Regions from separate parts of the Homo sapiens genome. Here all the other regions are linked to region 1. Evidence: fine-mapped expression QTL. A gene starts in region 1. Each other region holds a variant in brackets. All regions are shown on one strand. Distances are between the middles of the regions. Region 1 holds the start of ZNF124 (zinc finger protein 124). Region 2 has its middle 29 kb from the start of ZNF124. Region 3 overlaps ZNF670-ZNF695 (ZNF670-ZNF695 readthrough (NMD candidate)). Region 4 overlaps AHCTF1 (AT-hook containing transcription factor 1).

The links.
Region 2: its variant is fine-mapped to the expression of ZNF124 in blood mononuclear cells (TOPMed, PIP 0.90).
Region 3: its variant is fine-mapped to the expression of ZNF124 in visceral fat (GTEx, PIP above 0.99). The same link has a PIP of 0.9 or more in breast and skeletal muscle.
Region 4: its variant is fine-mapped to the expression of ZNF124 in skeletal muscle (FUSION, PIP 0.92).

The regions. Positions count from the first base shown.
Region 1 is chr1:247,170,533-247,173,218 of GRCh38, forward strand. ZNF124 (zinc finger protein 124) reads right to left here and starts at 1,488. Exons shown (of 4, transcript NM_001297568.2): 1 at 1,316-1,488. The coding sequence starts at 1,345.
Region 2 is chr1:247,141,758-247,144,443 of GRCh38, forward strand. It overlaps a transcript of ZNF124 not described here. Among named protein-coding and RNA genes, the nearest start is that of ZNF124, 29 kb to the right of the region's middle. The variant GTGTT/G (reference allele first, on the strand shown) is at 1,191.
Region 3 is chr1:246,975,504-246,978,189 of GRCh38, forward strand. All of the region lies in intron 5 of ZNF670-ZNF695 (ZNF670-ZNF695 readthrough (NMD candidate)), which reads right to left. It also overlaps a transcript of ZNF695 not described here. Among named protein-coding and RNA genes, the nearest start is that of ZNF695, 31 kb to the right of the region's middle. The variant A/C (reference allele first, on the strand shown) is at 1,251.
Region 4 is chr1:246,866,890-246,869,575 of GRCh38, forward strand. It overlaps AHCTF1 (AT-hook containing transcription factor 1), which reads right to left. Exons shown (of 36, transcript NM_001323342.2): 25 at 772-922; 26 at 355-462. Among named protein-coding and RNA genes, the nearest start is that of AHCTF1, 64 kb to the right of the region's middle. The variant CCA/C (reference allele first, on the strand shown) is at 1,012.

The sequences.
Region 1 (2,686 bases):
TTGTAGCAGGGCAAGCTGCAGACAAAACCCCTCAGACACCGAGTTAAAGAAGGAAGGGCTTCATTCTGCCGGAAGCTTTGGCAAGACTCACGTCTCCAAAAACCCAGCTCCCCAAGTGAGCAATTCCTGTCCCTTTTAAGGGCTTACAACTCTAAGGGGGTCCACGTGAGAGGGTCGTGATCGATTGACCAAGCAGGGGGTACATAACTGGGGGCTGCATGCACCGGCAATCAGAACGGAACAGAACAGGACAGGGATTTTCACAGTGCTTTTCCATACAATGTCTGGAATCTATAGATAACACAACCGGTCAGGTCAAGGGTCAATCTGTAACCAGGCCCAGGACGCGGCGCCGGGCTGTCTGCCTGTGGATTTCATTTCTGCCTTTTAGTTTTTACTTCTTCTTTCTTTGGAGGCAGAAATTGGGCATAAGACAATATGAGGGGTGGTCTCCTCCCTTAAGTGATGATGGTGCCCTGAGTTCCTCACCAAGAAAACCTAAAGGTACTTCATGCCTTTCTTGTAATTAACTTGAAGGGAAAGAAAACTTAACCCCAAATCAGCAATTTACCTCTGATTACATAACCAGGAACCATCCACCTAAATAATCCGAATAACAGAACTACATAATTATAACCAATCAGTTATTAAATTGGGGTTGCTTTGGGCTGGGCGGGGTAATCCCAGCACTTCGGGAGGTTGAGACCAGAAGTTCAAGACCAGCCTGGGCAACACAGGGAGACCCCCCCCCCGCCCCACCCGATCATTAAAATAAAAAATAAATAAATTTGGTTTGTTTCCTTACACACTTTACAGAAGCCTTTCCATCAAGACCGTCCGGTGGCCCACAAACCAAAAACCGTGGCTGGGTGCTCCCCTACTCATGAATCGCTGTTTGCTCAAACTCTGTAACGCTTTAATTAAACCTCAGTTTAATTTTTAACAGGATTAAGGAGGGACTGGAAACGCCAGTGGCCACAGCTCCTCGCAGGCGCGAGCCCGCACACCGCGCTGGGCCTCTCCCCTGAGGCGCCTCGGGTCTCACTGCAGGATCCCGAGGAGCCGCGGGGCTGCGGGCGCGGGCCGGGGAGGGAAGCTGCTTCGGGCAGGACGGAAGTCGCGGTGCAGAGACGGGACCGGAGCCCGGGGTGCCGCTGCCCGCCCAGCTCTGCCGGGCGCCAGAAAGGACCGAGGGCCGCGCCGCGCCGCGCCAGCAGGGACCCGGGTCCGCCCTCGGGAGCCGACCGCTGGGAGCCCGGGGCCCGGGGCCGCCACAGCCCCTTCCCTTCTCCAGACCCCCGGCGGCGCAACTCACCATTTCCCAGCTTCCGGGGTGTCCCGACATCCTCCCTGCGAATCCCCCAGTACATGCAGGTCACAGGAGGGCCCCGGCTGCGGCAGAGCCTCCTGAACCGCCGAGAGTGAAGGAGAAGCGCAGGGCTACTGACCGAGACACGCACGTGCGGGCACGAGAGACAAAGGCCGGGCACACCCGGAAGCCGCCTCGGGTTTTCTAGCGGAGCGCCGGATTAGGCAGTCCCCGCCCCGGTGCCCCTGATTGGGTAGGGCCTCAGGCCCCGCCCCCTCAGACTCTTAGTGACAGGTGACAGCTCCCGCGCGTGTCTGAATGAGGCAGCGTTCTGGCTACAGCTCTTCTCCAAGAGGGTTTCCTCTCTGGGTTGGGACCCAGCCTTGCCTAGGGGACATTCATTTATATACACTTAACCTTGTATACAATGTTACATTCATTTGTGAATAATATATATGATATTTAAAATAGGAAACAATATAATAATAATTCTTTTAAAATTTCAGACTTATTAACCTTCATGGCCTCTGGTCTTCTGAGGAAGCAGTCTGAGGAGCCCGAGTTTTGAAAAGGGAAGCAATCCTCCAAGGCTGCGATTTCCACAGAAATCACATGTGAGCCACAGGTGTCATTTTAAAATTTCTAGTAGCAACAGAAACGAGGAATAAACAGGTAAAATTGATTGCAATACTTTATTTAACTCAATATATACAAAATATTATAATTTAAATATATGATAAATATAATATTAATGAAGTATTTTTTGTTGTTCTGTTTTTTGGTACTAAATCTTTCAAAGTCACTCTGCGTTTTAAACTTCCAGCATGTACCGATTCAGACCAGCCACATTCTAGGTGCTAAGTAGACCCCTGTGGGCAATGACTGTCACACTGAAGTGCAGTTTTGAGGGCTCTGGTTCCCCTGACCTCAGGGAGTGAAGGGCCCGAACCCCTCTTTTCTGCTAGAGGTGAGGGAATGCCCTCCTTCTGCTAACATCTCTCCTCAGGCCCAAGGGTGGCAGAGACAGTGCCCAGAGAGAGAAGTGGGCTGCAATAAAGAAGTATCTAGAGGGAGTCTACTATTTCCCACCTGCTCTTGCCAGGGGCCCAGCCTCTTCTATAGATAAGACAGTGAAAAAAAGATGAGGGGCCCCAGGAGAAGAAAACCCATGTCTTCAGATTTGTCCACAGCCTTAACCTCAGGACTTTAGATGTAGAGGGAATACATTAAAGACAAACTTCTCATTTTGCAATTTGGCTTTGGCCCTAATGGTCAGGCTGTGGTTTTCTGTTTCCTCCTGTGGTGTGGAATTTAAGTGTGTGAGTTTAAGCACAAATCACATGCATGTCTACGTGCACTTCTGTATGGCTCAACACC
Region 2 (2,686 bases), 29 kb before region 1:
CCAAGGGTCCGCACTGGGTGCAGCAAGCAGCCCATATCTCAGTCCCCAGGAGACCACCTGCTGCCAGTTCTGAAAAGCCTGGTGACCTCTATGGTAAGTCTGAGGCCATTTATCAAGACCTAGTTCAGACACAAGCACAGTAGGTCCATTCTCTGCTGACCTGGGAGCAGCTCTCTTAGCTTGCCAGCTCTGGGGGCCTCTGTGCTGCAGTGCAGAACTTCTACACCATGGACTCCCAGGTGGCCTGGGTTCCCTGCTGAGGGCTGGGAATCTCAGCCACCCTGACTTGTGCCAGGGTCCAGCCCTGGCTGGAGAAGTCCAGAGCTCCTTCTGGGAGAAAGATAGGACCAGCCCTTTTTTGGACCAAAGGTAACTCAGCCTATCTATAGATGAGATGAAGCTTGACCTGGGGGTCTCCTGACCCTATTCAGCAAAGAAAACAGGTCTGGGAGTGAAAACAAAGACTTGCTGCTTCTCAGATTCTTCTGGATGACCAGCAGTGACAACTTTAGACACACCATGTTAATAACAGAACCTGTGGTGGTTGTAGAAAAGGAATTTGAACAATATACTGAAAATGGTAAACCCAGTTTTCTTTAAGGCTGATTACTGACAAATTTTGTATTTCATATAAGACATCTGATGTCTTTTGGCTGTCTTATGACAGTCATGCATTTCTGTAAATCAGAAAATATTATTAGGGTGTAATCATTCATATATGTTTGTATATTAAAAAGAGTAGCAAAATGAATATATATTTATATCTTCCCCACTTGAACTCAGAAAAGGCTGTAGCTCTTCACTCTCCCAGGCCGAGTCCTCAGAAGATTGATATTCACCAACCTTTAATAGCATTCTCTCTGGAGAAATGCTTCTATTTTTTCAGTTTGATGAAATCACCATGCCATTGTTTTTACTTTTCATTTTCTTACACAGAATCTAAGACAAGGTATATTAAATGCTTAATGATCCTATTCTTCACCTGGCTCATATCATTTACCTAATTTTAAACTTTCTTCTACTCTAAAAATTTCAATTCATCTTATGTATTGTAGAAGATTTTAAATCTAATACAGGTATTGTCTTTTTTTTTTTTTACATATATTCTATTGGCATTTTACACTGGGATCATGGAATATTTCATTATGTAAATTATTTAATTTTTATGTAGAAAAAAGAAAATTATTTTG[GTGTT/G]TGTTTTGTTCTTTGCTCTATAATTTCCATTACATACTGATTAGATAATTTTTTGAGTATTTTAAATTTTAGGTAATTATGCATTTTATCCATAAAGAATCTGCATGTGAGAGAGAGAGCTATTTTCTCCTCACTTCTATTTCATCTCCATCCTGACCTCCCCAGAATCCTCAGCTCTTTGTGTAGTTGGATAGCAGTTTATAATTCCAGTAAATGGGCCTAATTCAATAATATACCACAAATCAGTTTGAAACCAGGACATGCCTTCAAGACACACCCAAATGCCTATATATATAATAATACTAAGTTACAATTGATGTAAAAAATAAAATTACAAAAGGATTGTTAAAGTAAATTCAAAGGGACATCAGGCCTAAAAAATCCCTGAGGAAATGTGTGATCAGAGGCTTTCCCAGGCACACACTGCTCTACAGCCCTACCACACAGGCTTAACCGAGAATTTGACCCCGGAAGGTGACGGATGAACATGTGTCCTGGTATTCTGATCTACAGAAATCCTGCCCTCTCTTAATGATCCATCCAGAGCTCTAGGATCGTTTCTAGATTTATTTACTACACACAGACTGGAAGTTTTTGACAGAAGCTTTGAACTGGGAACCCTACCCTGTTCCACCAGCTTCTCTAGAAGTACAATGTTCTAATTACTCCTGAGAGACTCCATCTGAGGGTAACTCTCTGAGCCAACAAGATTTAAAGTGAGAAGAGGAAAAAGGCAAGAGTCGGGCTATGTCTAGGATTCCCTTACCTGACTTATGTCTTTGGTTTACCCAAGTATTGATAAGATTCGTCTCTAGATGGTAGAAACTAGATGGAGGAGCACTAGCTCACAGAAGTAGACAATGGGATCAGTGCTCCATAGATCCAGCTTAAGCTCAGCCATGAGATACTAAGTCTCTCAGAAAAAAAAGTAACAGTTCTCCATCATCTACCCCCGTAGCCTCAGACAGCTAGGCAGTAAGCATGCATGCTCAATAAAACTCCACATCCACATCACAGAGAGAGATAGAACAATCCCAAAGGACCGTGAAGGGTGATGTGGAGAGACCAAAAGGATATGAACCCACAGCATCTGCCCTACCATCTGCTCCAATACTAACCCTGTCCTTTCCCAACATGATTTCCAGATTTTTCTTTGGCCCTCACTAAGGGTGATTCAGAAAGACAAAAAGTTATTAATGCCCTTCCATTCTCCATATCTCCTGAGGTCTCAGTTGTTTACTCTGCGGGTTTCGGGTAGCTATCCCTCCCCAACTACATCCACAAAATTAGTGTATCTCATTCAGCACCAAGAATTTCACCTTTATTCTGGTCACTCCCTACCTTCTCCTAGACATTTTATCTAGAAAAGCCAGATGAAATAGCGACAAAAATGTTTACATAAAACTCAACCACAACTAAGTTGGAGTATCATAATCCCACTTTGGGCTAGGTTGCCACTCAGCCTACTACAAACTAGGCTTGGGGCAGTTAG
Region 3 (2,686 bases), 200 kb before region 1:
AACAATTACAATGCACTGAAGTTTTGGACTGAGGGCTGTGGGAGCAATAATACAGTGCTTCGAACTTAAGTAAAATGAAACAAGAACAGTTTTACTAACATGCTGAGAACATGAAAGTTCAGAGTTTGGCATGCAAATGCTGAGGGCTGAGGAGTAATCATGAGGCAGAGGAGCTAGGAAGCATATACAACCCTCCCAAGATTTTCATTGACAGTAAGGAGTAAGCTAAGGTGTAAACTGAGCAGGAGACAGTATCAAGAAAATGATTTAAATTATGTCTCTGAGGGAATTAAGCCAAGTGAAAGAAAAATCGAAGACAACTAAAACAAAAGGGAATCTTTAAAGAGGCTAAGTCTCAAAAGAGGTAAAAGAGAAGAGAACAACTTATTCTATTAGGCGAAGAGAACAACTTATTCTATTAGGCGAAGAGAATAACTTATTCTATTAGGCAGGAGGGAAGGAGGAAACGACCATCTCTGAAGGGAAATCTCAAGGTTAAGAGAGAGAGGCTTCCCAAGCATAAGATGAACAGTTTCTGTTTTCCCATGAAGAATGAGATAGACCATCTGCTGATACTGGCTGGTGAGGGAGACGCTGAGGGAGAGGCAGGGACAAGAACTTTATTGGTTTATAATTGGTGTGCAATGTTGCTGCCCTAAGCTGCATCCTCACACATAAAAAACTTGTCCTTATGTCTCTCTTGAAATCTATGCAGAAACTAGATGTGGCACACTGTCCACATGGGGGACAGAACACAAGGTTACAGAAGCACCACAACAAGAATGAAATAGTCATTTCTACATTTGCAAAACAATTTTTTAATTAGCTAATTATTTAGCTCAATGATTGCTATATCCCTGTAGGTATATGTGCTCAAGGATCAGTTATTATTTCTTTAAATCCTTTTGAGGCATTCAAAGACATAAGACATTCTATTTCAGTGGGAATGTTGTAGTAGGCAACATTTGCTGTAAATAAACAACACATGACAAAAGGAGTAAATTACACTGGCCGGGCGCGGTGGCTCACACCTGTAATCCCAGCACTTTGGGAGGCCAAGGCGGGCAGATCACGAGGTGAGGAGATCGAGACCATCCTGGCTAACACGGTGAAACCCCGTCTCTACTAAAAATACAAAAAATTAGCCAGGCATGGTGGCGGGCACCTGTAGTCCCAGCTACTCGGGAGGCTGAGGCAGAAGAATGGCATGAACCCGGGAGGCAGAGCTTGCAGTGTGCTGAGATCGCGCC[A/C]CTGCACTCCAGCCTGGGCGACAGAGCGAAACTCCGTCTCAAATAAATAAATAAATAAATAAATAACACTGAATTTATCCTGAAGAGAAAATGCAAAGCCAAATAAGAGACCCCCAAATCAGACTGAAAATTTATTTGCCTCTATAAAGTTCAGAAAACCAGAATGAGAAGCAGCTACTTTTTAAACTTTAGACATTATAAATTTACAATTCAACATGAGATTTGGGCAGGGACACATATCCAAACTACAACAATACTTACAAAGTCAACCTCAGATCAGTTACGCACATATTTTCTATCATTCCCAGTTCCCTGCCATTCGCAAAGTTTATGAGCATTTTTTATGTTCCCTCAAGCCCCAGATATAAATGTAAGAGCGTTGTGCCAGCTAACAAAAACTTTCATATGTGCCAAAATAAATCTACTCATCAGTGCCCACTGGTATTTTAATGGCTCAATAGAAATGTTTTGTACAAGGTTGTGAAGGCCTTTATGAAAGGATACATTTTTTGTTGTTGTTTTTGAGACAGAGTCGGTCTGTCGCCCAGGCTGGAGTGCAGTGGTGTGATCTTGGCTCACTGCAACCTCTGCCTCCTGGGTTCAAGCGATTCTCCTGCTTCAGCCTCCTGAGTAGCTGAGACTACGGGTGCCCGCCACCATACCTGGCTAATTTTTGTTGTTTTTAGTAGAGGCGGGGTTTTGCCATGTTGGCCAGGTTTCGAAAGCCTGACTTCGTGATCCACCCGCCTCAGCCTCCAAAAGTGCTGGAATTACAGGCATGAGCCACCACACCCGGCAAAAGGATAAAGTTTTTAAAAGTCTTTTAGGATAGCTTTGTTATCAGGTGTATAAGCTTAATAACACTCTCTTCCAGCATCTCTATTTGTCAGAGTTTTTATGACATTGGTGATTTCATTTTGATTCTAAAAACTTTCATACATCTCATTCTGTAGCAATTAGTTTGCGTTCAGCTACAAAGAAAAGACTTTTGTATAGTATCAGAACATATGAGGTGTACTCTTACGTACTTGGGCAGCAGAACTAATAGTGCAGTGACCTTATAGTGTGCCAGTTTCTTTCCATTTCCTGTCTCTGAAATGGTCTACACCTGGTCATTGTGCTCAAGCTCACTCCTTCAGAACCCAAGTCGGCTGATCCACCTCCAGGCAATTGAATCACATTCCAAACAGCAACAAGGAGAAAAATGTGAAGCTAATAGGACAGGGAATGTTATTAAAAACCAGTGTTTTTTAATTCAGAGAAGGCCAACCTGTTCAGGCACTTCTCTCTAAATCTCATGGAGCAGAACACTATCACTCGGCCACCAATGTAAGCAGAAACATTTCTCTGTAGCAGAACACAGGAGACATGATTGGGAGTGGCTGCTGCTACCTGTACTATCATGAGTTCTGACAAAAAGGCTATTTACATTGTGC
Region 4 (2,686 bases), 300 kb before region 1:
GAAAGCTTCAATGAGCTACCCAAGATTAATCTGTAATTAAGTATAAAAACAACCCTCATTTAGAGGTCTACTAACAAGCAGGTAACAAGGAAAGTAAGTTAATAGTTTGCTCATGAGACAAACTTCACTCCTGTCCACTAAGCAGTCTGAAATTATTGAACAAAAATTTTAAGTATACTACTACCTGATGTAAAATTTCCTAAAATTACTGCTGCCCAAAGTATAATAAAAAGCAAACATTAAAATATTCATTTAATAATTTAAAAGTCTATAAAATGTTAAAGATAATTAAAAATTACAATTGTAACTATCATCTAACATTGTGTCTCTAAGAATGATTTAATAAACTCTTACCTAGAAATTTTTTGTGATGCTTTTGAAATTGGTGTTCCAAAAAATGCCTCAGGCAGCTCTGGAGCTGGGAGCGAATACACTATAGGAGATGGTTCTTCTATTTTAGAACTATGAAAATAAAAATTTAACTTCTGATGTATCACAAGGAGCACTGATAACAAGTGGATGAGATGGGAGAACAGAGGGTTTTCATTCGTTTTACTTTGTACAGTTCTGCATTGCTTACAAATAATAATGAACATTTCACTTTTAAAGGTTTTTAAAAATTCTTCTCAGAAACATAGCCAACATAAAGAGTTTTTCTTTTTTACATACACTAATAAACTTAGGCAAAGAGAGTGGATTGTTGATGAACGCTGTTGATGTCCAGTAAAGATTAACAAGCAGCATGACTATGAAACGTGTAAGAAAACATACCTATTGAAAGGTGTGGTGCTATTTATAGGTTCTTTGCTTGCCCAAACTTCTCCAATTTTAGATAACACATTGTTGATGAAAACAGATCTTGTCAACACAGTTCCTGTTACAACTTGCTTTGGAACTGCTGATAATGGTTTGGGTCTAGAAACTGTAAAATGAAGAACGCTGGAATTAAGTGCATCTCTAACAAACGGGAATTTAATAAAAGCATATGAAAGAATGATTACACCCCCCCCC[CCA/C]CACACACACACACACACATTACGTGGTAATACTAGCTAAAAATTTTAATTATATATATATAATTAATTTTTTTTCTTTTAGACCAGTCTTGCTGTGTCACTCAAGCTGGAGGGCAGTGGCATGATCTCGGCTCACTGCACCCTCTGCCTCCTGGGTTCAAGCGATTCTCCTGCCTCAGCCTCCCAAGTAGATGGGATTACAGGCATGGCCACCAAGCCCGGCTAATTTTTTTTTTTTTTTTTTGAGACGGAGTCTTGCTCTGTAGCCCAGGCTGGAGTGCAGTGGCACAATCTTGGCTCACTGCAACCTCTGCCTGCCAGACTCAAGTGATTTTCCTGCCTTAGCCTCCCGAGTAGCTGGGACTACAGGAATGTGCCACCACGCTAATTTTTGTATTCTAAAGTAAAGGGTTTCACCATGTTGGCCAGGCTGGTCTTGAACTCCTGACCTCATGTGATCCACCCGCCTTGGCCTCCCAAAGTGCTGGGATTACAGGCGTGAGCCACTGCGCCTGGCAATTTTTGTATTTTTAGTAGAGACAGGGTTTCACCATGTTGGCCAGACTGGTCTCAAACTCCGGGCCTCAAGTGATCCTCCCTCCTCGGCCTCTCAAAGTGCTGGGATAGAGGTGTGAGCCACCGGCCTGGCCTACATTTTGTTTCATTATAGCTATGCTGGATTTAGGAAGTTGGGCTTTTGGTAAGTGGTAAAAAAAAAAAAAAAAAAAGTTATTCTTTGTGTTTTCTAGAAGTTGGACATGTGCCTTCAACTGAAATAGGAGTTCTTTCATTATGCATACACTAGTAAATAAACAGTCAAATCTTCTAAGAAAGGCTTACATTTCTTGGGTTACAGAGCAGCCAATAAAAAAGTACCACGTGATGAATGAGTACAGGTCTACCTCATTTTATTGTGCTTTGCTTCATTGTGTGTGTGTTTTTTGTTTTTTTTTTTTTTTTGAGATGGAGTCTCGCTCTGTCACCCAGGTTGGAGTGCAGTGGTGTGATCTCGGCTCACTGCAAGTTCTGCCTCCCGGGTTCACGCCATTCTCCTGCCTCAGCCTGCTGAGTAGCTGGGACTACAGGCGCCCGCCACCATGCCTGGCTAACTTTTTCTATTTTTAGTAGAGACGGGGTTTCACCATGTTGGCCAGGATGGTCTCGATCTCCTGACCTCGTGATCCGCCCGCCTTGGCCTCCCAAAGTGCTGGATTACAGGCGTGAGCCACCACGCCCGGCCGTGTGTTTTGTTTTTTTAAACAAATTGAAGGTCTGTGGCAACCCTGTGTCCAGCAAGTCTACTGGCACCATTTTTCCAACAGCGTGTACTTACTCCACTGACTAACTGTTCCCCCGCGTCTCTCCCTTTCCCCGAGGACCTCCCTTATTCCTTGAGACTGACAATATCCAAAGCCAACTAATAACCCTACAAAGACCTCAAGTGTTCATGTGAAAGGAGGAGTCACATGTCTAGGACTTTAAATCAAAAGCTAGACCTCTTATGCCAGTTAGCCAAGTTGTAAATGCAAAAAAGAACCTGAAGGAAATTAAAAGTGCTACGTCAGTGAACACATGAATGGAGAAGTCAATGCCTGGCTTCAAAGGACAGGGTGACTCTGCTGTTAGTGGTTAATGTAGCTGATGACTTTAAATTAAAGGCAATCACCATTCCA